Regions from separate parts of the Homo sapiens genome. Here all the other regions are linked to region 3. Evidence: fine-mapped expression QTL. A gene starts in region 3. Each other region holds a variant in brackets. All regions are shown on one strand. Distances are between the middles of the regions. Region 1 has its middle 46 kb from the start of LINC03026. Region 2 has its middle 39 kb from the start of CDK20. Region 3 holds the start of CDK20 (cyclin dependent kinase 20).

Evidence for each region. PIP is the estimated chance that this variant, and not a neighbour inherited with it, causes the effect. A credible set is the group of variants that fine-mapping cannot tell apart.
Region 1: its variant is the best candidate, but not a certain one, in a credible set for the expression of CDK20 in pancreas (GTEx, PIP 0.82).
Region 2: its variant is the best candidate, but not a certain one, in a credible set for the expression of CDK20 in transverse colon (CEDAR, PIP 0.58).

Annotation. Positions count from the first base shown.
Region 1 is chr9:88,026,766-88,037,424 of GRCh38, reverse strand. No RefSeq gene overlaps it. Among named protein-coding and RNA genes, the nearest start is that of LINC03026, 46 kb to the left of the region's middle. The variant G/A (reference allele first, on the strand shown) is at 4,736.
Region 2 is chr9:88,008,561-88,019,219 of GRCh38, reverse strand. It overlaps the pseudogene RPS10P3. Among named protein-coding and RNA genes, the nearest start is that of CDK20, 39 kb to the right of the region's middle. The variant T/C (reference allele first, on the strand shown) is at 6,141.
Region 3 is chr9:87,972,151-87,982,809 of GRCh38, reverse strand. It overlaps CDK20 (cyclin dependent kinase 20), which reads left to right and starts at 8,277. Exons shown (of 8, transcript NM_001039803.3): 1 at 8,277-8,438; 2 at 8,775-8,888. The coding sequence starts at 8,364. It overlaps LOC105376131 (a long non-coding RNA gene), which reads right to left and starts at 8,175. Exons shown (of 3, transcript XR_930088.2): 1 at 7,948-8,175.

The sequences.
Region 1 (10,659 bases), 55 kb before region 3:
GTTTCCAACAGTGAATATTCTACTTGTTTTAAAAAATGTCTACTTTGAGGTAACTGTGAGGTTTGACAGATACAATTTTAAAGCATAATAACATTTGAAAGTTAATTCCAAGTTTATTCTTTTTAGAAGCTGGAACACAGAAACATAGGAACTGGAGTTAGAGAGCATCTCATTAATAGCTAACCCTCCTCTAATAACTCATGAATTAATTAATAATTACAACCTTAAAACCTCATCAGTAACTAATTACTCATTGGTAATTCATTTTTTAACTCACTAGTCACCTACGACTTCCCCCAAGTGTCCACAGAAGGGAGGAAGGTAGGAGGGATGCGCTGGCCCCGCCGGCCTCTGCTGGCACATCCCATCACATCCATCATCTGTCTCACAGATTCCCTGGCCTGTCCCCCAACAGGATCCAACACCACCTTCCCCAGCCCCTGCCCAGAGCTTCCTCTCCAAACATAGCTCACTGGATCAAGCTGGGCTGGGGCTCTTCTCCCCTTTTCTCTTTGATTGATGTAATTTAAGGGCATGGAAGGAAATCAAATTGCACATTGTAAACTTTTGCATAGAAAAGTTTATGATGAAAATTTCCTTTGCCCTGCTCATCCCCACCTGGAATGCAGCTTCCCAGTGAAAGGACCCACAACCCACCAGGAGGCAAGAAAGATTGCTTTAGACCAGCAGTCCCCAACCTTTTTGGCGCCAGGGACCGGGTTTGTGGAAGACAATTTTTAACCCGGGGTTGGGTTGGGGGATGGTTTCAGGATGAAACTGCTCCACCTCAGATCATCAGGCATTAGTTACATTCTCATAAGGAGCAAGCAACCTAGATCCCTCACATGTGCAGTTCACGATAGGGTTTGTGCTCCTATGAGAATCTAGTGCCGCTGCTGATCTGACAGGTAATGCTGGCTCACCCACCCACCATTCACCTCCTGCTGTGTGGCCCCGTTCCTAATAGGCCACAGACGAGCTCCAGTCCATGGTCCGGGAGTTGGAGACCCCTGCTTTAGACTGAAGACATCTGAGATACAGCAGACACAGCTAGATACTTTTTTTGTTTGTTTGTTTTTTTCCGAGACGGAGTCTCTCTCTATCACCCAGGCTGGCGTGCAGTGGTGCAATCTCAGCTCACTGCAACCTCCACCTCCTGGATTCAAGCGATTCTCCTGCCTCAGCCTCCCAAGTAGCTGGGATTACAGGTGCACACCACCACACCTTGCTAATTTTTGTATTTTTAGTAGAGACAGGGTTTCACCATGTTGGCCAGATTGGTCTCAAACTCCTGACCTCAAGTGATCCGCCCGCCTCGGCCTCCCAAAGTGCTGGGATTACAGGGGTGAGCCACTGCACTCAGCCTAGAGGCCTTTTTTGAGCTTCCCATATATGATTAAAGGCAGAGATTTCTGATCATGAAGCTGCCATACATCCCCTCTCAAGGTGCCTGTTAACACCAAGAGTAAACCCTGTGTAAGCAAGCCCTCTGAAAACCTTCCATACTTCCCTCCAAAGTCCTAACCACCCTATTTTTACGATGCTGATGTATGAACTCTCACCCCTGGCGGCTCCTGGAGCCACTCCTTTTGGAGTGCTCCTAAATACAGTGAAAGCGAACTTTTCTGCTGTTATTCTTTCTATTGTCAATTAAATTGCCATCCTCTCCACCTCCCCACCACTCAGATCTATTGGTAAAGAAAAGCTTTCCTAGGCCGGGCACAGTGGCTCACACCTGTAATCTCAACACTTTGGGAGGCCAAGGTGGGCAGATCACCTGAGGTCGGAAGTTCGAGACCAGACTGACCAACATGGAGAAATCCCATCTCTACTAAAAATATAAAGTTGGCTGGGCGTGGCGCATGCCTGTAATCCCAGCTACTCGGGAGGCTGAGGCAGGGGAATCGCTTGAACCTGGGAGGCAGAGGTTGCAGTGAGCCGAGATCACGCCATTGCCCTCCAGCCTGGGCAACAAGAGCGAAACTCCAACTCAAAAAAAAAAAAAAAAGAAAGAAAAAGTTTTCTGTCAAAGCTGGGAACACATGTTAATACTTTTCTGGTGGTTAACTCTATGATTCTTCTTTAAAATCCTATAGTTTCCCTTTTATTACTATTCTATAAATCCTCAGTTCCTTTTGATTCTTTTATTGCTTATCTTTACACTTTCAAATAATAATCTCAAAACTCCATTTCTTGTTTTGTCAACTGAACTTGCCCTTGGACTATGTGAGAGCATCAGCACCTGCTGCTCGGTCGCCAGCGCAGCGGCCCCTCCTAGCTCTGGCCAGCAGCACTCCAATTTTGACAGCACTGAGACTTGCCCACTTGCATTCTATTCTGCAACTATATTGGATTTGTCCATGTTTTTGTCTAACTGCTGTTTCTACAAGATAAAAATCAATATGCATCAAATGCATTATATTGACTACTATGTAAAAAGTGGTCATTATAGCCTGCTGTGGTGGCTCACGCCTATAATCCCAGCACTTTCAGAGGCCAAGGTGGGTGGATCACCTGAAGTCAGGAGTTCGAGACCAGTCTGGCCGACATGGTGAAACCCTGTCTCTACTAAAAATACAAAAATTAGGCAGCCGGGCGATGTGGCTCATGTCTGTAATCCCAGCACTTTGGGAGGCCTAGGCGGGCAGATCACAAGGTCAGGAAATCGAGACCATCCTGGCTAACATGGTGAAACCATGTCTCTACTAAAAATACAAAAATTTAGCTGGGCATGGTGGCGGGTGCCTGTAGTCCCAGCTACTCAGGAGGCTGAGGCAGGAGAATGGCGTGAACCTGGGAGACAGAGCTTGCAGTGAGCCAAGATGGCGCCACTGCACTCCAGCCTGGGTGACAGAGCGAGACTCCGTCTCAAAAAATATATATATATATACAAAAATTAGCCGGAGCCTATAAACTTGGGAGGCTGAGGCAGGAGAATTGCTTGAACCTGGGAGGAGGAAGTTACAGTGAGCTGAGATCGCACCACTGCACTCCAGCCTGGGTGAAAGAGCAAAACTCCATTTCAAAAAAAAAAAAAGGGGGTCGTTATAAACCCAAATGAAGTAGTTTCCCGATGCAGATGTTTTTGAGTGTCTGCGTCACCATAGTGACTTACTTTCCCCTATTTTGCCAACAGTCCTGAAATCTTGGTTGTATGGATCTTGAAGTGATCTTTCATGAGAACAACCCTGATCAACATTAAGGCCACACAGACAATCATCACACTGGGGTCACTGTCCAAACCAAACATAACTGTCTCAATCCCAATCTGCAAAATAGAAATGTATTAAAAACCTAAATCATGATGTGCTACATTTTCTTCTCCTTAAGCATAAAATGCACTGTTTCCTGTTATATTGAATATTTGATCAGATTCTGCTTAAAAAAAAGAAAATTTAAAAAGCTTTCTCAAGTCTAACAGAGCTTATAAAAATAAAAAGTAAAAATAAAAAGCCTTCATCAGACATTAGGGGCTGAGGTTTTCTGTTTGTAATTAAATGTGCCATTAACAAGAATAGAGAATACTTGAAAAAAAATTTTTTTTTTTTGAGACAGGGTCTCACTCTGTCGCCCAGCTGAAGTGCAGTGGTGTGATCTCGGCTCACTGCAGCCTCAACCTCCTGGGTTCAAGCCATCCTCCCACCTTAGCCTCCTGAGTAGCTGGGACTACAGAAGTGCACCACCATGCCTGGCTAATTTTTGTATTTTTTGTAGAGACGACATTTCACCATGTTGACCAAGCTGGTCTCAAACTCCTCAGCTCAATCTACCTGCTTCAGCCTCCCAAAGTGCTGGGATTATAGGCGTGAGCCACCATATCCAGCCAAGAATAGAGAATACTTAATCTCCATTTCTCTGTATAACATGCTGGCAAAATACTACATAATGCTCTTAGGCCCTTGGCCAACGAATACCTCAGTCAATCATCCAATTAACCTTGGTGGTTCGTTATTACCTGTCATAAACAATACAATACACCATTTCCTCTACCTCCCACATTTAAGGTTCTTTAAACATCAACAGTTCCATGTAGCTGAGTCCAACCCAGAATCAATGCAAGAGCATGTTCTTCAACCATTTTTAAGCATGGAGTTTTCCTTTCCTTTGAGTTCATAGTCCTCAGTAACTAGAGCTACTTAATATGTACATATGCAGGCAGGAAACCTGATGCAGAAGGGTCTTATAAATGCACTTATGAACCTGGGCAAGTTGCTGTGTCAAAATATGCACAGTCTAACCTCTGGCTGAGTTAGCTACAACCAATAAACAGTAGATCCATGCAATTTTTATTTGGGAGTTATCTTTATAAAATCACAGACAGAACTAAGAAGTCACGAATGTGAAAAGGCACAGGAAATGTAAATGAGTGAACAGAGCAAATCAGACAAGAAGGATGGAGGTAAGAGGGTAACAGGGAAACAGGGAGGTAAAGAGGGTAACAGGGAAATGAATGTGAGGATCAGACACTTTCTTCATCATTGAAATGGTCAGAACAGGGCTTTGGACCTAGGCAAAGCCTCCATGCCGGTGGTTCCCAAATTTCAGCATGAATCAGAATCCCCTGGAGGCAGAGCTGCCAGATACAATACAGAACCCCAGGCCGGGCGCGGTGACTCATGCCTGTAATCCCAGCACTCTGGGAGGCCGAGGTGGGTGGATCACGAGGTCAGGAGTTCAAGACTAGCCTGGCCAAGATAGTGAAACCCTGTCTCTACTAAAAATACAAAAATTAGCC[G/A]GACGTGGTGGCATGTGCCTGTAATCCCCGCTATTCGGGAGGCTGAGGCAGGAGAATCACTTGAACCTGGGAGGTGGAGGTTGCAGTGAGCCAAGATCACGCCACTGCACTTCAGCCTAGGCGAAAGAGAGAGACTCTGTCTAAAAAACAAACAAACAAACAAACAAAACAGTACCCCAGCTAAAGGTGAATTTCAGTTAAACAACAAATCATTTTAGTATTAAACATGTCCCATGCAATAATTGAGACATACTCATATTAAAAAATGATGTCACTTATCTAAAATGAAATGTAACTGTGTGTCTTGCATTTTTGCTCTACCTACACAGAGGTTCAAATACTGATTGCTGTGCCCACACCCAGAGTTCTTGATTCAGTGGATCTGGGATGGGGCCCAAGAATCTGCATTTTTTGAGACAGGATCTCAGCTCCGTTGCCCAGGTTGGAGTGCAGTGGCACAATCACGGCTCACTGCAGCCTCGATCTCCTGGGCTCAAGTGATCCTCCCGCCTCAGCCTCCCAAAATGTTGGGATTATAAGCATGGTCCATGGCACCTGGCCAAGAATCTGCATTTCTGATACTTTTCCAGCTGACGGCGATGCTGCTGTGTGAGGATGCCCTTTGAGAATCCCTGCTACAAAGCCCCTGCCAGTGGAGTGGCATTGCTGTGTGGTGGCCTTGCACTGCGGATTGCCCACCGGAGGGATGCTGTGTGAGCACTGGCTGTGTCACCCTGCCACTGTGTCTCTGCTTCCCTGGAAACATGCGTTTCTCCACTTTCAGGCAGAAGCACCAACTGCTCCTGTGAATTAATATGCTCATTTAATGCTCATTACATTTAAATTTTGTCATTGAAAGGGCTCATTTTCCCATACTGGACCGTGGCCCTCTCCCTGCTCACTTCTTTAGAATAAAGAAGAGCATGAGGCTGGTGAAGGGGACTGATGCATTATTGCACTGGCTCTGTCTGTGGTGACAGGCTCACAAAAATACTGTCACCATGGTATTTCTCAGCATTTGCTACATAGGAGGTTTTTCATACTTCAGGAAACATATTTACCATTTTAAAACCAAAGACATCAGGGTCCCATCAACATCTGTGATTTAGCTGTTACTAAACATTGTAAATCTATCAGTGTCTTGTTCCTTGGAAGTAGAACACCTACCACTGGACTCCCTTTACTCTAATTAACCAAAGGCACCCCACATGAGTGGTTAATAACTGGTTGGGCTTTGTCCCCTTCAGAGGGGACACACATGGTATAGTTGCCAAGTCCTGGACTCACTTTCTGACAAAAGCTTTTCCAAGATGCTCCTGGCTGGAAGCCGTGTGTGTCAGTTTGCTATGGCAGATAATACTCTGTCCTCTGGACACCCGAAATTCGTGTGTTGAAGTCCCAACCACCAGCGTCTCAGAATGTGACTGTATTTGGAGGCAGGGTCTTTAAAGAGATAACAGGCCAGGCGTGGTGGCTCCCACCTGTAATTGCAACACTTTGGGAGGCCAAGGCGGGCAGATCACCTGAGGTCAGGAGTTCGAAACCAGCCTGGCCAACATGGAGAAACCCTGCCTGTACTAAAACTACAAAAATTATCTGGGTGTGGTGGCGCATGCCTGTAGTCCCAGCTACTTAGGAGGCTGAGGCAGGAGAATTGCTTAAACCCGGGAGGGAGAGGTTGCAGTGAGCCACTACACTCCAGCCTGGGTGACACAGTGAGACTCTGTCTCAAAATAAATACATAAATTAATTAATTAATTAAAATAAAAAATAAAGAGGTAACTAAGGTTAACTGAGGTCCTTAAGGTGGAACCTAATCCAATATGACTGGTGTTCCTTATCAGAAGAGGAGATGAGGACACAGGGCAAGGACGCCCATCTGCAAAGCTAAGGAGAGAGGACTCAGGAAAGAACAACACCGCAGATGCCTTGATCTCAGACTTCCGGGCTCCAGAATTGTGGGAAAACAAATTTCTGTTGTTTAAGCTGTCCAGTCTGTGATACAGAAAGCCCTCACTTAACATTGTCAGTAAGTTCTTGGAAACTAACTTTAAGTGAAATGATGTATAACAAAATCAATTTTCTAATCAATAGGCTAATTGATATAAACAAGAGTTAAGTTCCTACAGCACGCTTCTCCCTTTGCAGGGCGCACTCACACACATGCCCACCCTCACTCACCTTGGGACCACGTAGACACATCAGTTCACCTAATGGGCACAATCATGGGATCAAGGAGGAAACGAGAGCACCCAGAAAAAACCCACACAGACATGGGGAGAACATGCAGACAGACTCCAACACAGGTAGTGGCCCCAGGTGAGGATTATTCTTTTCTCATCGACCTTATAATAAAGACCTGTTGAGGCCAGGGGAGGTGGCTCATGGATATAATCCTAGCACTTTGGGAGGCTGAGGCAGTAGGATCGCTTCAGCACAGGAGTTTGAGACCAGACTGGGCAACACAGGAAGACTCCAGTCTCTACAAAAAATATTTTTTAAAAATTAGCCAGAAATAGTGGCAGGGGCCTGTTGTCCCAGCTGCTTGGGAGGCTGAGACGGAGGAAGATCACTTGAGCCATGATTGTGCCACTGCACTTCAGTCTGGGCAACAGAGCAAGACCCTGTCTCAAAATAAATAAAAACAAAATGACCTTATTCTAGGACCTGCTGTACTTTGTTACAATAGCCCAAGCAAACTGAGACACCATGTAAATGCCAGTTTTCCTTTACAATAAAGACAATAGTGCACGTACCCCAGATGTGACAACTGTAGGATTCCATTTGAAAGAGCAGGCAGGCTGGGTATGGTGGCTCATGCCTGTAATCCCAGCACTTTGGGAGGCCGAGGTGGGCAGATCATGAGGTCAGGAGTTCAAGACCAGCCTGGCCAACATGGTGAAACCCCATCTCTATTAAAAATACAAAAATTAGCTGGGCGTGGTGGCGGGCACCTGTAGTCTCAGCTACTCAGTAGGCTGAGGCAGGAGAATAGCTGGAATCTGGGAGGCAGAGGTTGCAGTGAGCCGAGATGGTGCCACTGCACTCCAGCCTGGGTGACAGAGCAACTCTGCTCAAAGAAAAAAACGAAAGAAAGAAAGAGCAGGCAATTTTCACCTTACAGTAACCTATGATTGAGGATCTCAGTTGCCCCTCTCAATAGGTTTTCCTGTTTTATCCTTCAGTTCTTCTCTGCCCCTGGCTGGAGACCAGACATAAGCACAAATCTGAAGGTTGAGCCCTGGGGTGGAGGACAGGAACCATTTTCTCACTACCACCACCCTCTGTGAGCTACCACTTGCTTCTGCCAAGAATCATCCTTACAATGAGCTCCTTCCTTACTCATTATTTTTCTTCTTCCTTGCAACACGCAGAATTTATCTCTCCTCATCTTGATGTTGATGAAAGGCAATATTCTTTGCTAATTTAAAGTGTGATGAAACATACAGAAGAAAACAAGATTTCTGATAAACACTTTTTGCTAATTAAGTATTTGGAAATCTGCTTGTACCAAAATAATATGACATTCCTCCCTGTGCCCTCCCTGTGCCTTTTATTTCCTCTAATAGAATTGTTTTCCTCCACACAGAGGTTCTCTTTTTTTTTTTTTTTTTCAGATGGAGTCTCACTCTGTTGCCAGGCTGGAGTGCAGTGGTGCTATCTCGGCTCACTGCAACCTCCGCCTCCTGGGTTCAAGCGATTCTCTTGCCTCAGCCTCCCGAGTAGCTGGGATTACAGGCACCCGCCACCGTGCCCAGCTAATTTTTTATTTTTAGTAGAGACAGTGTTTCACCATGTTGGCCGGGATGGTCCCGATCTCTTGATCTCGTGATCTGCCTGCCTCGGCCTCCCAAAGTGCTGGGATTCCAGGCAAGAGCCACTGCTTCCGGCCAACAGAGGTGCATTCTAGATCTTTAATTTCTCCACCTCACTTGGAAGATTGCTAGAAATCACAAATAAAGTTTGTAATGTAGTTATATAGCTTTCACTGAACATTTTAAATACTTGAACAAAAAATTCATGACGATTACACATAACCAAGCCCATCCCAAACTTTTTGAAGACTTCATATGTCAATCCCCCGATAGTTAATAAATACTGTATTTTTTCATGACTCCCACTCTTAATCATCATACTGACTCATACCACTCAAAACTGCAGTTTAATTATATTAGTTTTCTCTAATATAAAATTAGTTACATATTTAATTAACTTCCTTTCTCCCAAAATAGCAACCATCCTCTTTGATTAACCTGGCTGAGTCATGCAAAACCTTATGCTTATCTTGCTGTCAATTACAAGCATATTTTAGTTTTAAGCAGAAATAGCTTACATTGTACCATGCAAAAATTACGGTGTTAGGGCCGAGCGCTGTGGTTCATGCCTGTAATCCCAGCACTTTGGGAGGCCGAGGTGGGTGGATCACCTGAGGTAAGGAGTTCAAGACCAGCCTGGTCAACATGGTGAAACCCTGACTCTACTAAAATACAAAAATTAGCCGGGCATGATGGCGGGTGCCTGTATTCCCAGCTACTTGAGAGGCTGAGACGGGAGAATCTCTTGAACCTGGGAGATGTTGGTTGCGGCGAGCTGAGATCACGCCACCGCACTCCAGCCTGGGCAGCTGAGTGAGACTCCATCTCAAAAAAAAAAAAGAAAAAGAAAATTACGGAGTTAGGAGGAAGGATGGCATATGGTTAGGAAACTAATTTCACAAGTAAATGGATCCTCTATTGACTTTGACAGACAAAATGTAAGAACAAGAATGCAAAAGTAAGACCTTTTTTTTTTTTTTGAGATGGAGTTTCGCTCTTGTTGCCCAGGCTGGAGTGCAATGGCAAGATCTCGGCTCACTGCAACCTCCTCCTCCTGGGTTCAAGTGATTCTCCTGCCTCAGCCTCCTGAGTAGCTGGGATTACAAGGCATGTGCCACCACACCGGCTAATTTTGTATTTTTAGTAGAGACTGGTCTCAAACTCCCACCGTCAGGTGATCCACCCGCTTTGGCCTCCCAAAGTGCTGGAATTACAGGCATGAGCCACTGTGCTTGGCAGTAAGACTCTTATATTCCTAGACTTTTTTTGTATGTATGAATCACTTTGGTACCAAAAGGTCCTTTATTTGATAAAGACAGTTCATGACTGCTTTATTCATTACCAGTTTATTTCATTTAAAATTTTATTACTTTTGGAATCTGGATGTCACAGACAAGGTTGGGTGATAACAATTTAAGGTTAGAGTCCTCCTGCAAGGACAAGGATGTCAATAAGAGGTGAGGAGGGTTCCAGGCACATTGCTGCCCACATAAAAGAGCAAGCTAGGACCCAGGCGCGGTGGCTCACACCTGTAATCCCAGCACTTTGGGAGGCCGAGGCAGGTGGACCATGAGGTCAGGAGATCGAGACCATCCTGGCTAACACAGTGAAACCCCATCTCTACAACAAAATACAAAAAAAAAAAACAAATGAGCCAGGCGTGGTGGTGGGCACCTGTAGTCCCAGCTACTCGAGAGGCTGAGGCAGGAGAATCTGTTGAACCTGGGAGGCAGAGGTTGCACTGAGCCGAGACTGTGCCACTGCACTCCGGCCTGGGCAATAGAGCGAGACTCCGTCTCAAAAAAATAAATAAATAAAAATAAGAATACCAGCTTTTTAAAGGAAAAATCATTTAGGACCAAGGTCTAAAAGCAATTCTTTGGGAGTGTGTGTCCTAACAGAGCAGACCCTGAGTACTGAAACTAACAGATTATTCCGTGTGATGGCTGCATGGTGCCTCTCAAATGTCATATGTTGAAATGCTAACCCCAAGAACCTCAGAAGGTGACTATATTTGGAGGAGGGGCCTTTACAGAGGTAATCAATTAAAAATGATGTCATATGGATGTGTGGGCCCTAATCCAATCTGACTGGGTCCCATAAGAAAAG
Region 2 (10,659 bases), 36 kb before region 3:
ATTAAAAAAAATGATAATCCCTGTTGACCAGGGCATCACTGGACTTTTGGCTGAAACAACTACACATAGCCCCACTATGTGGTATCTCTGCATGGACTAGTTTGGGCTTCTTCATGACATAGCTTCCCAAGAAAACCAGGTGGAAATGACCTTCTTTTATGACCTCATTTTAGAAGTTGCAGAGAATCAACTTCATCCTAGTCAAAAACCCATGCAAATCTAAGAGGAGAAAACAGAGACTCTACTTTTCAAGTGTCAAAATTATTGCAAGAAGAGGGTATAGAGTTAGAGATATTGTGGTAGCCAACATTGGAAAAATCTAATACTCCCTTAACAGGAAACGAGAAAACAGCAATCAACTTTGAAAGCTGGAAAAATAAAGAAAACTAATGATTAATTTTGCAAACCTAAGAAAGATGATTTTTTAAATTTATTTATTTATTTATTTATTTTTTAGACAGAGTCTCAGTCTGTTGCCCAGGCTTGGAGTGCAATGGCACAATCTCAGCTCACTGCAACCTCCACCTCCCAGGTTCAAGCAACTCTCTTGCCTCAGCCTCCCAAGTAGCTGGAATTACAGGTGTGTGCCACCACACCTGGCTAATTTTCGTATTTTTAGTAGAGACGGGGGTTTTGCCATGTTGGCCAGACTGGTCTCGAACTCCTGACATTAGGTAATCTGCACACCTTGGCCTCCCAAAGTGCTGGAATTACAGGTGTGAGACACCACACCTAGCCTAAGAAAGATAATTCTAGGCCAGAAGCGAGTTCAGCTGAGAATCAAGATGTTTAAGAAGCAGTTGGATCCCTCGATCCCATTCCCCACCCCACAGGGCTGGGTAACATTCAGCAGAACGCTGGAGGTCTATTTTCTTGAGAGGACCTTTGGGCTGAGAGTTGACCACAACAGTTGAGCTTAAGGGCACATTCCTCAAAAAGGGACGCAATTACATTGATGCAAACTGATTGCTGACAGCCCCAGCCCTCTTGGCTCACAGAATGCTAAAACCACATAAGAACCCTTCAAACAGGAAATTGGAAGACTACTTTCTGGAGAATCTGAACAGTACATGAGGAAAAAGCAAGTAATATTGATACACGTATTGGGTTCCCTAATAGCATACACACAGACCTCACGGTGAATTGCAAGGTAAACAAGCCACACCTACTTACAAGACTTCCAATAAGTTGTTCAGTTCCATATTTCTAACTGCAAGCCAGGCTGGGTGCAATGGTTCACGCCTGTAATCTCAGCACTTTGAGAGGCCGAGGCAGGCAGATTGCTTGAGCCTAGGTGTTGGAGCCCAGCCTGGGCAACATAGCCAGACCCTGTCTCTACAAAAAAACTCATAACACTAGCCAGGAGTGGTGGCAAATGCCTGTACTCCCAGCTACTTGGGAGGCTGAGGGAGGAGGATCACTTAAGCCCAAGAAACCATGGAGGCTACAATAAGCTTTGGTTGCACCATTGCACTCCAGACTGACCAACAGAGTGAGACCCTATCCCCCAAAAAAGAAAAAACCCTGAGCAGACAACCAAGATTTACCAGACAAAGCCTCTAAAATGGAAGATATGGGCCAAAACAAGCAGAGACAGAAGCAAGTTGGAGGAACAAAACTATGGAAATGTATTATCATGTTCACATATTTAGAATTTCTTTGATGATATTACACATCTATCTATGCCTATTTAGAGTATGCATATGAATATATAACTATGAAAAACAAAGAGGTTGCTGTTAAAAAGAGCATTCAGAACAGAGGAAAAACAAAAGGTGAGTAATTAAAAACTTAGTAGAATAGTTGGAAGAGCAAGTTGGGGAAATCTCTCAGAAGGTGGAGCAAAAGTACAGAGATGAAAATGAAAATGTTAAAATCAGAGATTAAGTTCATGGATTCCAATGTTATGACAGGATTTCCAGAAGAGAGAATGGGAGGAGGAGGAGTGTTGGGAAAGAGGGAAGGAAATTAAATGTTGGACTGGCAAGATTCTTTCGTTTTTGTTCAACTGATAGCAACAACTATTCTTATTAGTGGTATTGGCCAAACTCTCCTAAAGTCATTCTTTTATTTATTTATTTATTTTTTTGAGATGGAGTCTCGCTCCGTCACCCAGGCTGGAGTGCAGTGGTGCAATCTCGGCTCACTGCAACCTCTGCCTCCCGGGTTCAAGGGATGCTTCTGCCTCAGCCTCCTGAGTAGCTGGGATTACAGGCGCATGCCAGCATGCCCAGCTAATTTTTGTATTTTTAGTAGAGATGGGGATTTCACCATGTTGGTCAGGCTGGTCTCGAACTCCTGACCTCGTGATCTGCCCGCCTCGGCCTCCCAAAGTGCTGGGATTACAGGTTTGTTTGTTTGTTTGTTTGTTTTAAGGATTTTTGGCTGTAAGTTTATTCAATGCAAAAGAATCCTCTCCAATTTTACTGAGGTGGCTGACCACGTCCATGACCAAATCCGCCTCTAAACTGGAATTCGGTTGCTGACCCAGCCCCAGCCTCAGCTTTCTTGCCGGCACCAGGTGGCACAGCACTCATCTGTGGGTATCTCTGTCAGCTTCCCCTCTTGCGAGTCTCGTAGGTCGCTCAATCTCCAGACCTTTAGGCCGAGGCCTGCCAGTCTCTGGACGGCTACGGCATAGGGTGGCAGGCACAATCTCTGGGGGCAGATGAAGGTAATCACGGAGATACTGGATACCCTCATTGGTAAGATACCAGTAGAAATGTCTCCAGGCAAACTGTTCCTTCACATAGCCTCGGGACTTGAGAAACTGCATGGCCTTCATGACATGAAGGTTGGGCACATTCTTGTCTGCCAGCTCCGGGTGCTTAGGCATGTGGACATCCTTCTTGGCCACCATGACTCCCTCCTTAAAAAGGAGTTCATAAATGGCAATCCGGTTCTTCTTAGGCATCAACATCTCTGCAGCTGCAAGGGCCGGGCTGGGGCTGGGAAAGGGGATTACAGGTTTGAGCCACCACACCCGGCCCCAAATTCATTCTCAAGTAAAATCGGGGGTAGGGGCTGGGTCATCCAATGCTGTGCAATGAACTCTGCTCTGTTGAGACTCACTACAGAGGTTGGGCATGGTGGCTCACATCTGTAATCTCAGCACTTTGGGAGGCTGAGGCAGGCGGATCACAAAGTTAGGAGTTCGAGACCAACCTGACCAACGTGGTGAAACCCTGTCTCTACTAAAAATACAAAAATTAGCCAGGCGTGGTGGAGCTCGCCTGTAATCCCAGCTACTCAGGAGGCTGAGGCAGGAGAATCGCTTGAACCCGGGAGGCAGAGAATGCAGTAAGCCAAAATTGCACCACTGTACTCCAGCCTGGATGACAGAGTGAGACTTCGTCTAAAAAAAGAAGAATTAGATTGGCATGGTAGGTGCCTGTGGTCCCAGCTATTCAGGAAGTTGAAGTGGGAGGATCACTTGAGCCCAGAAAGTCAAAGCTGCAGTGAGCTGTGATTGCACCACTGCTCTCCAGCCCAGGAAACAGTGAAACCCCGTCTCTAAATACATGAATAAATAAATAAGTTTTTAAAAATAAAAATAAAAATGATTTGCTTTAAAAAAAAATCTACCTGGTATCATTTGGTTTCTAGATCCAGTTGAAGAGACCACTGAGAGCTAAAAGTGGGGCTGGAGGTGATCTCTGGCTCCCCTAACATTCTTGATCAAAAATCACACAGTGCCTTAACCACTCTGTGATGCAGTCAGCTACAGGTTTTTCCCTGCAGGCTTGACCCAAAGCTGGGCCTCAGCATTGATAAAGATACCTAGGTTGTTTGCCAAAAACACAGAAAGAAACTGGCCCTGACCCTCAGCTAAATTCCTTCAACCCTGACATCTATAAACCCTGGTCCCCCTACTGCAGACATACCTAGGGAGAAGATGCTTGTCTCTCGCTGTCCCTCGAGTGGGTTGCTGCAGCCTCTGTATGTAGGTTCCCTAATAAATGCTCTGGATTCATCACCCTGGTGTTACTGGTGTTAGTGCTTTTTTTTTTTTTTTTTTTTTTTTTTTTTTTTTAAGACTTAGTTTCACTCTTGTCCCCAGGCTGGAGTGCAATGGCACGATCTCAGCTCACTGCAACCTCCGCCTCCCAGGTTCAAACTATTCTCCTGTCTCAGCCTCCCAAGTAGCTGGGACTACAGGCGTGCGCCACCATGCCCGGCTAATTTTTCTATTTTTAGTAGAGATGGGGTTTCACCATGTTGGCCAGGCTGGTCTCGAACTCCTGACCTTGTGATCCACCCGCCTCGGCCTCCCAAAGTGCTGGGATTACAGGCATGAGCCACTGCGCCTGGCTAGTGCTTCTTTCTTTGGAATCCCAACCAACCCCATCTTGGGATGGTATGGGGCACTCCCTTCTGGCAATTTCCCTGCCAGCATTTTGAGGCAACTCTAGCTGTGTGCTTGGCGGGACAAAACAAGACCATGTGGAGCACAAGTGTTGGTGTATTTTGCTCTTTCCTTTAGGCCAAGTCCTACCCTAAGTCCTCATGTGTATTAATTAGTCCTCACAATCTCCCCTAATCCTTTTATCCCTTTTCTTTCTTTTCTTTTCTTTTCTTTTTTTTTTTGAGACAGGGTCTTCTCTGTCACCCAGGCTGGAGTACAGTGGTGTGATCACAGCTTACTGTAGTCTCAACCTCTGGGGCTCAAGCAATCCTTTCATCTCAGCCTTCTGAGCAGCCTCGACTGCAGGCATGTGCTACCATACTTGGATAATTTTTGTTGTTGTTGTTGTTTTCTAGAGACAAAGTCTCACTATGCTCCCCAGGCTGATTTTGAACTCCTGGGCTCAAGCAATCCTCCTGCCTCAGCCTCCCAAAGTGCTGGGCCTATCTCCATTTCTTTGAGAGAGAAGGCCAGAGCACAGACTGAGCTCCTCTCTCAGAGCAGCCCTGGGATTCTGGCCCGTCTCAGCCACCATGAACTACCACACTGAACCCGAGAAGGGCTGCTTCCTCCTCTTACAGACTAGCAGGTGTGGGAGGAGAAGGGCAGGGAGGGTGTTCGTGTTCACTTGTCCTGTGCTATCCAGGACAGCAGCCCTGGTCCACACACAATGATTGTGCACCTGAACATGGCGAGGCCGAATTGAGTTGTGCTGTGAGTAGACGACAGGACACACACCAGATTTTGGAGATTTACCATGGAAAACAGAATGTGACCTATCTCAGTGATTTTTATATGCATTACATGTGAAAATAACATTTTTGACATATTGGGTAAAATGAAATGTATTATTAAAATCAATTTCACCTGGTTCTTTTTAGTTGAATGTTATTAGTGTAAACGTAATGTTACATATGTGGCTGACATTATATTTCTCCTGAGCAGCACGGCTCCAGGAGGGTGGACACTGAAACTGCTCTCAGCCCGCATGGTTGTGCGGTAGAGCTGTGCTGCCAACTCAGGCCTGGGGACTGGTGTCATCCCTATGTTTCCATGGAAACAGGTATTCCTAAGAGAAACACCAACCCTCCTCCACCTAGGGACAGATGTCTATTTTCTTTTTTCTTTTTTAGTAGAGATGGTGGCAGGGAGGGTGGGGGTCTCGCTATGTTGCCCAGGCTGGTCTCGAACTCCTGACTGCAAGGCAAACCTCCCGCCTTGGCTTCCCAAAGTGCTAAGATTACAGGATTGAGTCAATGAGCCCAGCTGGGAACAGATGTTCATGTCCTCCTCTCATCTTTTCCCCAAATTGCCCTTGGAAACTCTTGACAAGTCTTGGCCTAAGTTCTCTACCTCTTCCCCACCTATCTAGAAAAGGCTACCAGAGCCCAGAACACCTGGAGAGATGATAGCTTTCAAGGTGCAGAGATAAAGAGTTCCCAGAAAGGAGACACATTTTGGGGATTGTGAATTGTCTCCTTAGTGGAGAGAAGGACAAGCTTCCTGCAGCTTTCACTCTCTCCTTTGTCCTGGAACCTGTCCCTGCCTAAGGAACTCTTTGGCAAAAGACTTTGCTTTCTGGGTCTCACTTCCTGCTTGATGAAATAAGCTGCTCAGCATAGATTATCCTTAAATGCCATTGAGATGCAAACAAATGTCACTGGTGCCCTTTGAGCACCGCCCGAATATTTTAACACCTCCAGACAGGAGGACTGCACTTGTCTCCTGTTTGTTG[T/C]GACTTTTCTCCAGCTTCTTTTCTGTAGGTTGTTAGCAGTCAGAAAACTGTTACAATTACCATGGAGCTGGGTTTGCAGGGGTGAAGGCTAGGAGATGGAAAATCACTTCCCTAAAGGGGACCTTACCCACAAGTGGCAAAGCCAACATTTTAACCTGAACTGCAGGTTCCAGGTGAGGGCCGGCACCCCTGCATCACCTGAAAAAGGAGGTCACTGGATCACGAGTTCTAAGAAATCATTCAACTCTGACATGTGGGGGCCTATTTATTTTTATCTCACTAGAAAACAAAGTCAGAGACTGGGTCTGAAGGTAAGGATGCAGACATCTGAGACAAAATCTCTCTCCTTCCTGTCTTAACTTTGTTTTATTTAGTGTGTGAGGTTTGTTTTTGTTTTTGTTTGTTTTTGAGATGGGGTCTCACTCTGTGGCCAAGGCTGGAGTACAGTGGCATGATCTCAGCTCACTGCAACATCTGCCTCCGAAGCTCAAGCAATCTTCCCACCTCAGCCGCCTGAGTAGCTGGGACTATAGGCCTGCGCCACCACACCCAGCTAATTTTTGTATTTTTAGTACAGACAGGGTTTCACCATGTTGCCCAGGCTGGTCTCGAACTCCTAGATTTAAGAGATCCACTTGCCTCAGCCTCCCAAAGTGCTGGGATTACAGGCATGAGCTACCACACCCTGCCCTGTTTTATTATGTATTATTGTTTATTTTTTTGTAGAGAAGGCGGGTTGCACTATGTTGCCCAGCCTCCTCTCGAGCTCCTGGCCTCAAGAGATCCTCCTGCCTTGGCCTTGTTTTATTAGTTTCACTAGGAAAATTACAGAGGAAGATAAAGCATACAAATAAGGTTAAAACCAACAATAATCCCACAATTTTTTAAAAAGATATAAAATTAAAGTGAAGCATCTGCCCTCGGCTCACCACAGCCCTCAGTACCTGCCCTTCCAAGAGAAAACCCCTCCCCTCCAATAGGTAACTATTCATATTGTCCTCCCAGAATTTTCTTTTTTTCTTTTTCTTTTTCTTTTTTTTGAGATGGCGTTTTGCTCTTGTTGCCCAGGTTGGAGTGCAATGGCATGGTCTCAGCTCACTGCAACCTCCACCTCCCGGGTTCAAGTGATTCTCCTGCCTCAGTCTCCCAAGTAGCTGGGATTACAGGCACCCACCACCATGCCCCTCTAATTTTTGTATGTTTAGTAGAGACATGTTGTCCGGGCTGGTCTCAAACTCCTGACCTCAGGTTATCTGCCTGCCTCGACCTCCCAAAGTGCTGGGATTACAGATGTGAGCCACTGCACCTGGCCCAGAATTTTCTTATATTAATACACACAGTATATTATTTATTTTACAAAAAGGTAAGCATGCTAAATCTATTAGACTGCAAAATATGTTTTCTCATCTCTTGGATATCCTTTCCTGCCAGCACATTGGCAGTATTTAGTGGGTGCACAGAATTCAGTTTCCTGGATTTTCTCTATTTTAACTCTTCCTCCCTCTGCTGGTAGACATTTAAGTTTTTCTCCAGTATTTTGGAGCTGCAGTGAACAGGGCAGCTCTCTACAGGGGCAGATTCCCAAAGAGAGACCTAGTGCCCTGGGAAGAGAAGGGGGTTTCATCTACCAAGAAGCCAGGCAATTAGGAATGAGTTTGCCATCAAATCTGTCAGAAAGAAAGGACTGGGCAACAAGAGCAAAACTCCGTCTCAAAAAAAAAAAAAAAGAATTTAAGTTGCTAGAGAATGTGGAAAGTTTCAAAGGCAGAACTTGTAGCCCTGACATAGTAAAACCTTAAAGCAGCTTTTAGAAAGTCTTGGGCAAAGGCCTTGAAGCCCAACTGGCTCTACACTGATTCTCGCTCCCAGCCTTGGGCAAGCAGATCCACCTGCCAACTCTCAGTACTGCCTTTTCATAAAACCTCAGATAAGCACAGTGCTCTCAAACAGCATAAAAAGCACTAGCCACAAAGGGAAACAATGACTCCATTAAAAACATTTGACTCTATTAAGGCCAAGAACTTCTGTTCATTAAAAATCTGGATTTAAGAGTGAAAAGGTGGGGCCAGGCTCGGTGGCTCATGCCTGTAATCCCGGCATTTTGGGAGGCCGAGGCAGGTGGATCACAAGGTCAGGAGTTCAAGACCAGCCTGGCCAAGATGGTGAAACCTCGTATCTACTAAAAATACAAACAATTAGCCAGGCGTGGTGGTGGGCGCCTGTAGTCCCAGCTACTCGGGAGGCTGAGGCAGGAAAATGGCATGAACCCAGGAGGCAGAGCTTGTAGTGAGCTGAGATTGCGCCACTGCACTCCAGCCTGGGCGACAGAGTGACACTCCATCTCAAAAAAAAAAAAAAAAGAGTGGAAAGGTCAGTCATAATGGGAAAAGACTTTTATCATCCATAAATCCAACCAAGAACTCTGCATAATTGTGGCCCTATATTAATTTTAGGAATTGGTATCACTATCACATAAAAGAAAATAATATTTTTGGTGGTAAGGGATGGAGCCTTGCTCTGTTGCCCAGGCTGGAGAGCAATGGCATGATCTTAGCTCACTGCAACCTCCACCTCCTGGGTTCAAGCAATTCTCCCACCTCAGCCTCCCAAGTAGCTGGGATTACAGTTGTGTGCCACCATGCCTGGCTAATTTTTGTATCTTTAGTAGAGATGAAGTTTCACCATGTTGCCCAGGCTAGTCTTGAACTCCTGACCTCAAGTGATCCTCCTGCCTTGGCTTCCCAAAGTGCTGGGATTACAGGTGTGAGCCACTGCGCCTGAACTGATTGTGTCCTCTAATGCACAAAGTTTTAAACTTGTTTGTTTGTTTGTTTTCTAACCACTAGACCACCAGGGAAAAAGTTTTCCATTTTTATTGACTTCAATTTATCTATTTTTTCTTATGTTGCCCATGCTTTTGGTATCACATTCAAGAAATCATTGTCAAATCTGATATAAGGAAGACTTCTTTTAAGATTCTTATAGTTTTTTTTTTTTTTTTCGAGACGGAGTCTCACTCTGTTACCCAGGCTGGAGTGCAGTGGCACAATCCTGGCTCACTGCAAGCTCCGCCTCCTGTGTTCATACCATTCTCCTGCCTCAGCCTCCCGAGTAGCTGGGACTACAGGTGCCTGCCACCACACCCAGCTAATTTTTTTGTATTTTTATTAGAGATGAGGTTTCACCGTGTTAGCCAGGGTGGTCTTGATCTCCTGACCTCGTGATCTGCCCGCCTCGGCCTCCCAAAATGCTGGGACCACAGGCGTGAGCCACTGTGCCCAGCCTAAGATTCTTACAGTTTTAGCTTTTATAGTTAGGTCTTTGATCCATTTTGAGTTAATTTTTGCATATGGCACTGGGTAAGGGTCCAGCTTCATTCTGTTGCATGTGGAGACTCAATCTCCCTACAACATTTATTATTTTTATTTTTTCAGAGATGAGGCCTCACTATATTGTCCAGGCTGATCTTGACCTCCTGGGCTCAAGCAATCCTCCTGCCTCAGCCTCCCAAAGTGCTGGGATTACAGGTATGAGTCACCATATCCAGCCTTTCAACACTATTTTTTGAAAAAACTATTCTTTCCCTGTAAATGGTCTTGGTATCATTGTTAAAAAAAATCATTTGAAAGCCTGGCGGGGTGGCTCACGTCTGTAATCCCAGCACTTTGGGAGGCCAAGGCGGGTGGATTGCCTGAGGTCAGGAGTTTGAGACCAGCCTGGTTAACATGGTGACACCCTGTCTTTACTAAAAATACAGCAATTAGCTGGGTGTGGTGGTGTGTGCTTGTAGTTTCGGCTACTCGGGAGGCTGAGGCAGGAGAATCACTTAAACCTGGGAGATGGAAGTTGCAGTGGGCCAAGATCATACCACTGCACTCCTGCTTGGGTGACAGAGCAAGACTCCATCTCCAAAAAAAAATAAAAATCATTTGACCATATATATAAAGGTTTATTTCTGGGCTTTCTGTTCTATTCCATTAGTCTATGGGGCTGTTTCTATGCCAGTACCACACTGTTTTGATTACCGTAGCTTTGCAGTAAGTTTTCAAATCCAGATGTATGAGACCTCCAACCTTATTGTTTTTGAGATTGTTTTGGTTACTTAAAGTTCAAGAAAATAACATTTTGACAGACACAATGTGATGCACTGACAGCAAATTATACCATTATTTGTAAAATGCTTGGTCAGGCACTTATACAGAGAACTACAGTAGTTTCCCCCCTCCTTATCCATGGGGGACACATTCCAAGACCCCCAAGACCCCCCAGTGGATGTCTGAAACCTCAGATAGTAACAAACCCTATATATATTATACTCTGGGTTTTTTTCTATGCATACATAACTATGATAAAGTTTATTTATTTATGTATTTTTTTTGAGACAGAGTCTTGCTCTGTCACCCAGGCTGGAGTGCAGTAGTGCGATCTTGGCTACTGCAACCTCTGCCTTCCAGGTTCAAGCAATTCTCCTGCCTCAGCCTCCTGAGTAGCTGGGATTACAGGTGCGTGCCACCACACT
Region 3 (10,659 bases):
TAGATGGCTTATGGTTGGGTCATGTTTTCTTTAGATTCATTCTGTTTGGTGTTCACTCAGCTTCATGAATCTCCCTTTCCGTATATTGCTTTTTTATTCTGTTGTGTCCTTTGATGCACAGAAGCTTTTAATTTTGATAAAATCAAATGTGTCTATTATTATTTTAAAATTTTGATTGACATATAGTAATTGTATGTATGTATGGGGTACATAATGATGTTTTGACAGGTACAGTGTCCAATACATAATGTATAAAGATCAGATAGGGTAATTACCATATCCATTATCTCAAATATTTATCATTTATTTGTGTTGGAAACATTCAATATCCTCCTTCTACTTATTTGAAACTATATATTATTGTTAACTAATATATAGTCATACCACAGTGCTACAGAACACTAGAACTTATTCCTTTTATCTAACTAGTTGTAATTTTGTATCCTTTAACAAATCTCTCACTATGTACCCCCCCTTCTCCACTACAAGTATGTTCTGTTCTACTTTTTACTTCTCTGAGATTAACTTTTCTTGGCTTCCACATGTGAGAATATGTGATGTTTCACTTTCTGTTCCTGGTTTATTTCACTTAACATACTATCCTCCAGTTCCATCTATGTTGCAGTGAATGACAGGATTTCATTCTCTCTGAGGCTGAATAATATTCCATTATATATATATACCACATTAAAAAATTCATTCATCTATTGTTGGACACCTGGGTTGATTCCATATCTTGGCTGTTATGAATAGTGCTGTGCTGCAATAAACATGGGGATGAAGATGTCTCCTCAACATACTGATTTCCTTTCCTTTGGATAAATATCCAGTAGTGACAGCACTGGATCTTATGGTAGTTCTAGTTGCAGTTTTGTGATGAATGTCCATACTGTTCTCCACAGTGGCTGTACTAATTTACGTTTTCATCAACAGCATATTAGAGTTTTCTTTTCTCCGCATCCTTGCCAGGATTTGTTATTTTAGCCATCCTAACTGGGATGAGATTATACCTTATTGTAGTTTTGATTTGCATTTCTGACAATTAGCATCATTGAGTACTTTTTCATATGTTTCTTGGCCATTTGTATGTCGTCTTTTGAGAAATGTCTTATCTAGATCATTTGCCCATTCTTAAACTGAATTGTCGTTTTTGTTTTGTTTTGACTGTTGAGATGTTTGAGTTCCTTGTGTATTCTGGATATTAATCCCCTGTTGGATGAATGGCTTGCAGATATTTTCTCAGATTCTGCAGGTTGTCTGTTCACTGTGTTATTTCTTTTGCTGTGCATAAGCTTTTTAGTTTGATATAATCCCATGTGTTTATTTTTGCCTTTGTGGCTGTGTTTTTGAGGTCTTACTCATAAAGTCTTTTCCCAGACCAATATCCTGAAGCACTTCCCCTATGTTTTCTACTAGTAGTTTTATAGTTTTTTGTGTTACTTTTAGGTCTTTGATCCATTTTGGGTTGATTTTTGTATAAGGTGAGAGGTGGAGGTCTAATTTCATTTTTCTGCATATGGATATCCAATTTTCCCAGCACTATTTGTTGAAGACATTGTCTTTTCCTCAGTAAGTGTTCTTGGTGCCTTTGTCAACAATCAGTTTGCTATATATATGTGGATTAATTTCTGGGTTCTCTATTCTGTTCCATTGGCCCACGTGTCTGTTTTAAGGTCAGTACTATGCAGTTTGTGTTACTACAACTTTGTAGTAGATTTTGAAGTCAGGTAGTGTGATGCCTTCAGTTTCGTTCTTTTTGCATAGGATTGCTTTGGCTATTCAGAATCTTTTGTGTCTCCACATTGTTTTTAAATCTTTTTTTCTATTTCTGTGAAGAATGTCATTGGCATTTTGATAGGGATTGCATTGAATCTGTAGATTGCTTTGGGTAGTATGGTCATTTTTTTTTTTTTTTTTTTTTTTTTTTTTGAGACAGAGTCTCACTCTGTCACCCAGGCTGGAGTGCAATGGTGCAATCTCGGCTCACTGCAACCTCTGCCTCCCTGGTTCAAGCTATTCTCCTGCCTCAGCCTCCCGAGTAGCTGGGATTAGAGCTGCCTGCCACCGTGCCCGGCTATTTTCTGTATTTTTAGTAGAGACAGGGTTTCGCATGTTGGCCAGGCTGGTCTCAAACTCCTGACCTCAGATGATCCACCTGCTTCGGCCTCCCAAAGTGCTGGGATTACAGGTGTGAGCCACCATGCCCGGCACAGTATGGTCATTTTAACAATATTAATTCTTGTACTCCATGAGCATGGGATGTCTTTCCATTTATTTGTATACTCTTCCATTTCTTTTATCACTGTTTTTTAGTTTCCTTGTGGAGGTCTTTCACCTCCCTGGTTGGATTTATACCTAGGTATTTTATTATTTTTTATTTTTTGTAGCTATTGTAAATGTGATTGCCTTTCTTTTTCAGCTAGTTTATTGTTCAAATATAGGAACACTACTGATACTTATATGTTGATTTTGTATCCTAAAACTTAACTAAATGTATCAGTTCTAAGAGTTTTTTGGTAGAACCTTTAGGTTTTTCCATATATAAGATCATGCCATCTGCAAATAGGGACAATTTGACTTTCTGCTTTCCAATTTTGATACCCTTTCTTTCTCTTGCCTAATTACCCTGGCTATTATTACATTTGTTGCCTATGTTTTTAGTGTTACATGAAGAAGTCACTGTCAGGCCAGGTGCGGTGGCTCATGCCTGTAATCCCAGCACGTTGGGAGGCCGAGGCAGGCAAATCATGAGGTCAAGAGATCGAGACCATCCTGGCCAACATGGTGAAACCCTGTCTCTACTAAAAATACAAAAATTAGTTGGGCGTGGTGGCATGCGCCTGTAGTCCCAGGTACTTGGGAGGCTGATACAGGAGAATTGCTTGAATCTGGGAGGCAGAGGTTGCAGTGAGCCGAGATCATGCCATTGTACTCCAGCCTGGCAACAGAGTGAGACTGTGTCTTAAAAAAAAAAAAAGAAGTCACTGTCAAACCCAATATTATGAAGCTTTTCCCTTATGTCCTTATGTTCTCCTCTAAGAGTTTTATAGTTTTAGCTCTTTCATTTAGGTTTTCTTTTTTTTTTTTTTTTTTGAAACAGAGCCTCCCTCTGTTGCCCACGCTGGAGTTCAGTGGCGTGACCTCAGCTCACTGCAACCTCCACCTCCTGGTTTCAAGTGATTCTCCTGCCTCAGCCTCCTGAGTAGCTGGGATTACAGGCATATGCCCCAATGCCCAGCTCATTTTTTTGTATTTTCAGTAGAGACAGGGTTTCACCATGTTGGCCAGGCTGGTCTCGAACTCCTGACCTCAAGTGATCCGCGGGCCTTGGCCTCAAGTGATCCTGCCTCAGCCTCCCAAAGTGCTGAGATTACAGGTGTAAGCCAGTGCACCTGGTGTAAATTTGGGTCTTTAATCCATTTTGAGTTAGTTTTTCCATATGATATAAGGGGTCAATTTTTTCATTTTCTTGCATGTAGAGCTCTAGCTTTCTCACCATCATTAGTTAAAGAGACTGTCCTTTCCCCATTGAATGGTCTTCATAATTTTTTTAAAAATCATTTGATCAGGTATGTGAAGATTTACTTCTAGGCTCTCCATTCTATTCCATTGGGCTGTCTGCCTTTATGTCAGTACCACACTTTTTTGATTACTATAGCTTGTGGTAAGCTTTAAAATCTGGACGAGTAAGACCTCCTCCTTTTTTAAGATTGGTTTTGGCTATTTAGGGCCTCTTGAGAATCCACATTGGTTTCTGAATAATTTTTTTTTCTAATTCTGCAAAAAAGAAATCCCATGGAGATTCCATTAAACCTTTAAATTGTTTTCAGTAGTATTGACATATTCAAAATATTAAGTCCTTCAGTCCATGAACACAAGATGTCTATTTATTTGTGTCTTTCTTTCAGCAACATTTTTTAGTTTTCAACCTATGAGTCTTTTGCTTCCTTATTTACTCCTAAGTATTTTATTCTTTTTGATATTATTGTAAATGGAATTATTTTCTTAATTTCTGTTTCAGAGTGCTCATTGTTAGTATATAGAAACTATTGATTTTTGCATATTGATTTTGAATCTTGCTACTCTGTTTATCTTGTTTATTAGTTTTAACAGTTTTTTGTGGCATATTTAGGATTTTCTACATATATTATCATGTTGTCTCTAGACAGAGATAGTTTTTTCTTTCCAATTTGGATGCTATTTATTTATTTACCTACATTCATTTATTTATTTATTAGACGGAGTCTCACTCTGTCACCCAGGCTGGAGTGCAGTGGTGCGATCTCGGCTCACTGCAACCTCCGCCTCCCGGGTTCAAGCGATTCTCTTGCCTCAGCCTCCCAAGTAGCTGGGACTACAGGTGCGTGCCACCATGCCCGGCTAATTTTTGTATTTTCAGTAGAAATGGGGTTTCGCCATGTTGGCCAGGCTGGTCTTGAACTCCTGACCTCAGGTAATCCACCTGCCTCAGCCTCCCAAAGTGCTGGGATTACAGGCATGAGCCGCTGTGCCCGGCCTATTTATGTATTTATTTATTTATTTTTCTAATTGCTTTGGCTAGGACTTCCAGTATTATATAAAATAAAAGCGGCAAAAGTGAGGATCCTTGACTTGTTCTTGATCTTAGAGGGAAAGCTTTCAATCTTTCACCATTGAATGTAATGTTAACTGTGGGCTTTTCCTGCATGGCCTGTATTATGTTGAGGTGGTTTTCTTGTATTTATAGTTTGTTGAGTGCTTTCTTCATTAAAGAGTGTTGAATTTTGTCAAATGCTTTTTCTGCATCAATTGAGATTATCGTCTCCTTTTACCATTTCTTGAAGAGAATAGTGAAATAACTCCCATTACCATAATCATACTAGTCTTTGTGCTGTGATGTTATGCACAAAATGGTGCTTCATAAAGCATTTGATAATTGTACGACAGTCTTATGTGTGGGAAGATAAGTAAAATTTAGTCATGTAAAAGTCATTATGCAGTTATTGATTTGGCAAAAAAAAAAAAAAAAAGAAAAAAAAGAAAAAAGTCACTAGTCCAATAAAAAGGCATTTGCTTTGAAACTTTTCTTGAACCTCAAACTAGCTAGTAAAACTTGACAAAGTGGAGCCGTGTGTGGTGGCTCAGGCCTGTAAGTCCAGTACTCTGGGAGGCCAAAGTGGGAGGATCCCTCAAGCCCAGGATCAGCCTGGGCAACATAGAGAGACCCTGCCTCTACAGGCGTGGTGGTACGTGCCTGTGGAAAAAAGTGCCAGTTTTTCCAAGGGGTTGTATGAACTTGCACTCTTAGCAGCAGTGTATGAGAGTTCAAGTTGCTCTTTGCTAGCATTTGGTATTATCTATCTTTTTCATTTAAACTATTCTAGTGATTACAATAACACTCTGTTGTGGTTTTAATATGAAATTCCCTTCTAGTCAGGGAAGTTAAACACACATATTGCAAAATTTATTGGCTGTTCAGGAATCACCTTTTGCGAAGTGTCTATTCCAGGTTTTTCTAATTTTTTTTTTGTAAGATTGTCTGCTTCTTCTTCAGTGTTATAATAAAAGTTCTCTATAAATTCTACATGTGAGTCCTTTGTCAGATATATGTATTACAGTTCTCTTTTGCCTTTCTGTGGCTTTCTTGTTCACTCTCTAATGGTATCTTTTTTTTTTTTTTTTTAATTTGAGATGGAGTCTCACTCTGTCACCCAGGCTTGAGTGCAGTGGCGTGATCTTGGTTCACGGCAACCTCCACCTCCTGGATTCAAACAACTCTCCTGCCTCAGCCTCCTGAGTAGCTGGGATGACAGGTGCATGCCACCATGCCTGGCTAATTTTTGTATTTTTAGCAGAGACAGGGTTTCACCATGTTGGCCGGGCTGGTCACGAACTCCTGACCTCAACTGATTCTCCCATGTTGGCCTCCTAAAGCGTTGGGATTACAGGTGTGAGCCACTGTGCCTGGTCTCTAATGGTATCTTTTGATGAATAGATATTCTTAGCATTGATGAAGGCCAATTTCTCATTTTTGTTTTTCTTTTAGTGTATTCTGTAACCTAAGGATCTTGAATTAATCCAAAGCCATTAAGATATAATTTTCTTCTAAAAGCTTCATTATTTACCTTTTATATTTAGATTGCAGTCCATCTGGAATCAATTTTGTGAATGGTGTGAGACTGGGGTCAATATACATTATTTTCCCCTTATGACTTCTCAAATGACCCAGCACTATTTGTGAAGACCATCCTTTCCCTACTGTATCTTTTTTTTTTTGTTTGTTTTTTTTGAGACCAAGTTTTGCTCTGTCGCCCAGGGTGGAGTGCCTTGGCACAATCTCGGCTCACTGCAACCTCCGCCTCCTCCATTCAAACGATTCTCCCGCGTCGGCCTCCTGAGTAGCTGGGACTACAGGCCGAGTGCCACCATGCCCGGCTAATTTTTGTATTTTTCGTACAGGCAGGGAGTTTCGCCATGTTGGCCAGGCTGGTCTCAAACTCCTGATCTCAAGTGATCCGTAGGACTCGGCCTCCCAAAGTGCTGGGATTACAGGCCTGAGCCACCATGCCCAGCCTATCTTCGCCAGTTTTAATGCTAAAAACTATTCCATTCTATGGCACTCCCTTAACTTAACTTAGCCATTTTTCCATCTGGGTATTTGGGTTGTTTTCAGATCTCTGCTATCATCAAACAGGAGGAATACTTTGTATGGACATCAAGTCATTCTTCTGCAATTATTAACCCAGAAGTGAAATTTCTAAGCTAGAAAATATTTGCTTTTTTGGAAAATTAATAAATTATATTCAAAACTCAAATAATGTAAAGAGACCCAGTGAAAAGTCTGCCTCCTATTCTGTCCCCCTGTCCTCCCAGTCCCTCTTCCACCAGGTAACCACACTCAGGAAATCTTGTGTATCTTTCCAGATATCTTGTAATGGATGTACAAGCATTATTTATATTCTTTTCTCCTTTTGTTTACACAGCCAGTGGTACTCTATGCATTCTGTCCTGCATCTTGCCTTTTTCATTTAACAACCTATTTTAGAAATCTTCCCATTGCTGTACATAAAAAGATTTAATACCTCATTTGAAGGAGGCACCACAATGATGGACATCTGTGTTGTTTCCAATAGTTTGCCGTTGAAACAACGTTGCAATGGAATAACTTTGTACATGTCATTTCACATGTGTAAAAGGTGTCTATTGGGGAAATTGCTAGAAGTGGCTTTGCTGAGTCTGAGGGTCTGTGCATTTGTGATTTGATCAACATCGTCAAATTATACTGCCACCAGCAATGTATGAAAGTGCTTGTTTTCCCGTAGCTTGGTCAATGAACTATTAGACCTGAGATCTTTAGCCATCCAATATGTGAAAAACTGTAACTTTAGTTTGCATTTGTTTATTGTATGTGAAGTTGAGCATCCTTTCAGAAGTTTAAGGCCTACTCTGTCCTGTCTGGGTCAGAGTATGCCCTTTTATTTTATTTTTAGTTTTAGTTTTTGAGACAGAGTCTCGCTCTGTCACCCAGGCTGGAGTACGGTGGCGCAATCTCGGCTCACTGTAACCTCTGCCTCCCGGGTTCAAGCGATTCTTCTGCCTCAGCCTCCTGAGTAGCTGGGATTACAGGAGCACGCCACCACGCCCGGCTAATTTTTTTTGTATTTTCAATAGAGACGGGGTTTCACCATGTTGGTCAGGCTGGTCTCGAACTCCTGACCTGATGATCCGCCCGCCTCAGCCTCCCAAAGCGCTGGGATTACAGGCGTGAGCCACCGTGCCCGGCCCTCAGAGTATGCCCTTTTAAAAATCTGTGGGTACACGTAGCCAACTGACATTTTAAGACAAGAGGACCCACAGACCCTCTTTCCACAACGCAGCCCGGGACCTGTCTGTCTGCATCAATAGTGCCTGGCTTTCGGAGCTAGAAAACAGCACCTGCGCGTGGTCGAAGCCTGAACCTCTACTTACAGGTGCGGAGCTTCCGGCTTGCCAGGGGAAGGAGCCCGCCCCTCCCGGCTGCGTGCACCAGCGCAGCTAGTCACGTGACGCCGGGGGCGGGGGCAGATAGGAGGTGCCTGCTGTCATCGTTCCGTGGGCCCTGCTGCGGGCACGCTCTCGGCGCATGCGTTTTTTATGCGGGATTAAGCTTGCTGCTGCGTGACAGCGGAGGGCTAGGAAAAGGCGCAGTGGGGCCCGGAGCTGTCACCCCTGACTCGACGCAGCTTCCGTTCTCCTGGTGACGTCGCCTACAGGAACCGCCCCAGTGGTCAGCTGCCGCGCTGTTGCTAGGCAACAGCGTGCGAGCTCAGATCAGCGTGGGGTGGAGGAGAAGTGGAGTTTGGAAGTTCAGGGGCACAGGGGCACAGGCCCACGACTGCAGCGGGATGGACCAGTACTGCATCCTGGGCCGCATCGGGGAGGGCGCCCACGGCATCGTCTTCAAGGCCAAGCACGTGGAGGTGAGGCTGGACCGCGGCCGGCAGCCTGGCGGGGGTGTGCCCCCGCCACCCTCCGGCTAACGCTCTAAACTGTTTCGGTTCCCTTTTTACATCCAGTACAGTTTTTAAAACCTACTCATATTCTAAACCTACTTTGGGCCGTTGCGCTTCCCTCCGCACAGCTGGCTTGGTCCCCTACCCCAGCGGCTGGGTCCCAGGCTAGTCCTAGACCCCCGAGGAGGGCCTCTGGCCGAGCCGGGGGCGCGTGTCTCTCTCTCAACCACCTTCCCCTCACCCACCTTCATCTCTCTTTCCCAGCCGAGGGTGGGCTGGCAGTGTCTGCCTTCTATCCTGCAGACTGGCGAGATAGTTGCCCTCAAGAAGGTGGCCCTAAGGCGGTTGGAGGACGGCTTCCCTAACCAGGCCCTGCGGGAGATTAAGGCTCTGCAGGAGATGGAGGACAATCAGTATGTGAGTAGGGGAGGGGGGGCATGGTATTCTCACCCTCAGTCGCTCGTTCCCACTTCTTTGTGCCTTCATTTTCCCAGCTACGCCTTCACCAGCTTTCAGGGATTTCCTCCCGCTGTCACTCACACACACTGCTCATTCATCTGCCTCCTTACCCCCTTTTGCCCTTTTTTGTCCACTTGTTCACCTTTATTTACCTATTTCTTTCATTTCTCACACATTCACTCTCATTTGCCTACTTATTTCTTAATGTATTCATTCATTCACCGACTTTTTTTCTCAAAACATGTAGTGATTTATAATGTAACTAGCACCTATTGAGCTCCCGATGTGTTCTGCAGGCATTATATACATTGTCATTTTGAGACCTCTTTACTACTGTACAAGGCAGGTTTCCAGATCTCTGTTTCTCAGGTGAGAGGAGGAGGTTATGTCACCAGCTCTTGGGCCCTCCGTTAGTCAGTAGAGGGTTTGGCCCAGGTTTGATTGAGAGTCCATTCTTCCCTTGGGACCTCCCATAGGCTCTACCCTGTGTTGGGCACTGGTGACACAGAGAAACCAGCTCCAGCCCAGCTCCTGAGGACTTAAGTGTGCTAACAAGAGACAGAGGCAACAGGGCCCACCTAGTGTGGTTCGTGCTGTGATAGGGTACCGGGAGGGGCTGCTGGAACACGAAGAGGGGCATCTTTCACCCCTAGTGTCATTACTCTTTTGGTGCTCTCTCTCACCCATGTCGAAATAGGGAATGTATTTGACTCCCTGGAGAGTTAACAGGGTTGGGTCTCTGTGATCTGGAGATATGCATGATATATTGGATGACAAAAGCATGTTATAAAATTTTGTGTCATCTGGGTTTTGTTTGGAAATATTATATATGTGAATGTGTATTTGTGTGTGCCATATCTGTTGTAAAGTCTGGTAGAATACACTCTAAGATTGACTGTAGGATTTTTCTTTTGTTCTTTTTCTGTTGGATTTTATGTCTTACCTGAATGTGTGCATGTGTTTTGATCTGTTAAATGGTTGTGTACTACCTGAAAAATCCGAAAACAGCAATCAGGCCATTTTGATTTTTTGAGGAAGATAAAAGGGCTTCCAGACAGCCATGTGTGGGATAGGTGGAGAGATCCATAAGGAAGCTGGTGATATGGTCCCTACATCCAGTTGGTCAGCAATTCTGAAGGTTCTAACTTTAAAACATACTCTAGATTTGCTCCTTGCCCAAGTCATCATCACCACTCATCAGAATGACAGTGGCAGCCTCCCCACTGCTCTCCATAGCCACAGTCCGGAGGGCTTTGTCAAAAGTGTAAGTTAAGTCATCGGCTCCCCTGCGTAAAAAGCCCTGGTGGCTTCTCTTCACACTTAGAGCACTATCACCATGTGCCCACCTCCAGCTGGCCTCTCCCTTTTCTCTCATTCAACACAACTTCTTAGGCATCTCTCCAGTGACCAGCACCTATCTAGGGTCCAGGAGCACAGAACAAGGCAGACACATCCTTCCCTTAAACAATCTCATGTACTCACATCCCTCTAGCCTCCTTCTGTGCTGGCGTTAGGGCCTTGCACTTGCTTTTCTTCCTGCTCAGAGCTTTATCCCAGATCCCCACAAACTGGGTCCTCATCTAGCCCCACCCCACCTAAATAAAGAAGTATCCTTTTCTCCACTCACAGAATCACACTATCCTCTTCTAGTTCTGTTGATTTTTTTTCTTTTTTTGATACAGGGTCTCACTCTGTCACCCAGGCTGGAGTGTAGAAGTGCGATTTTGTC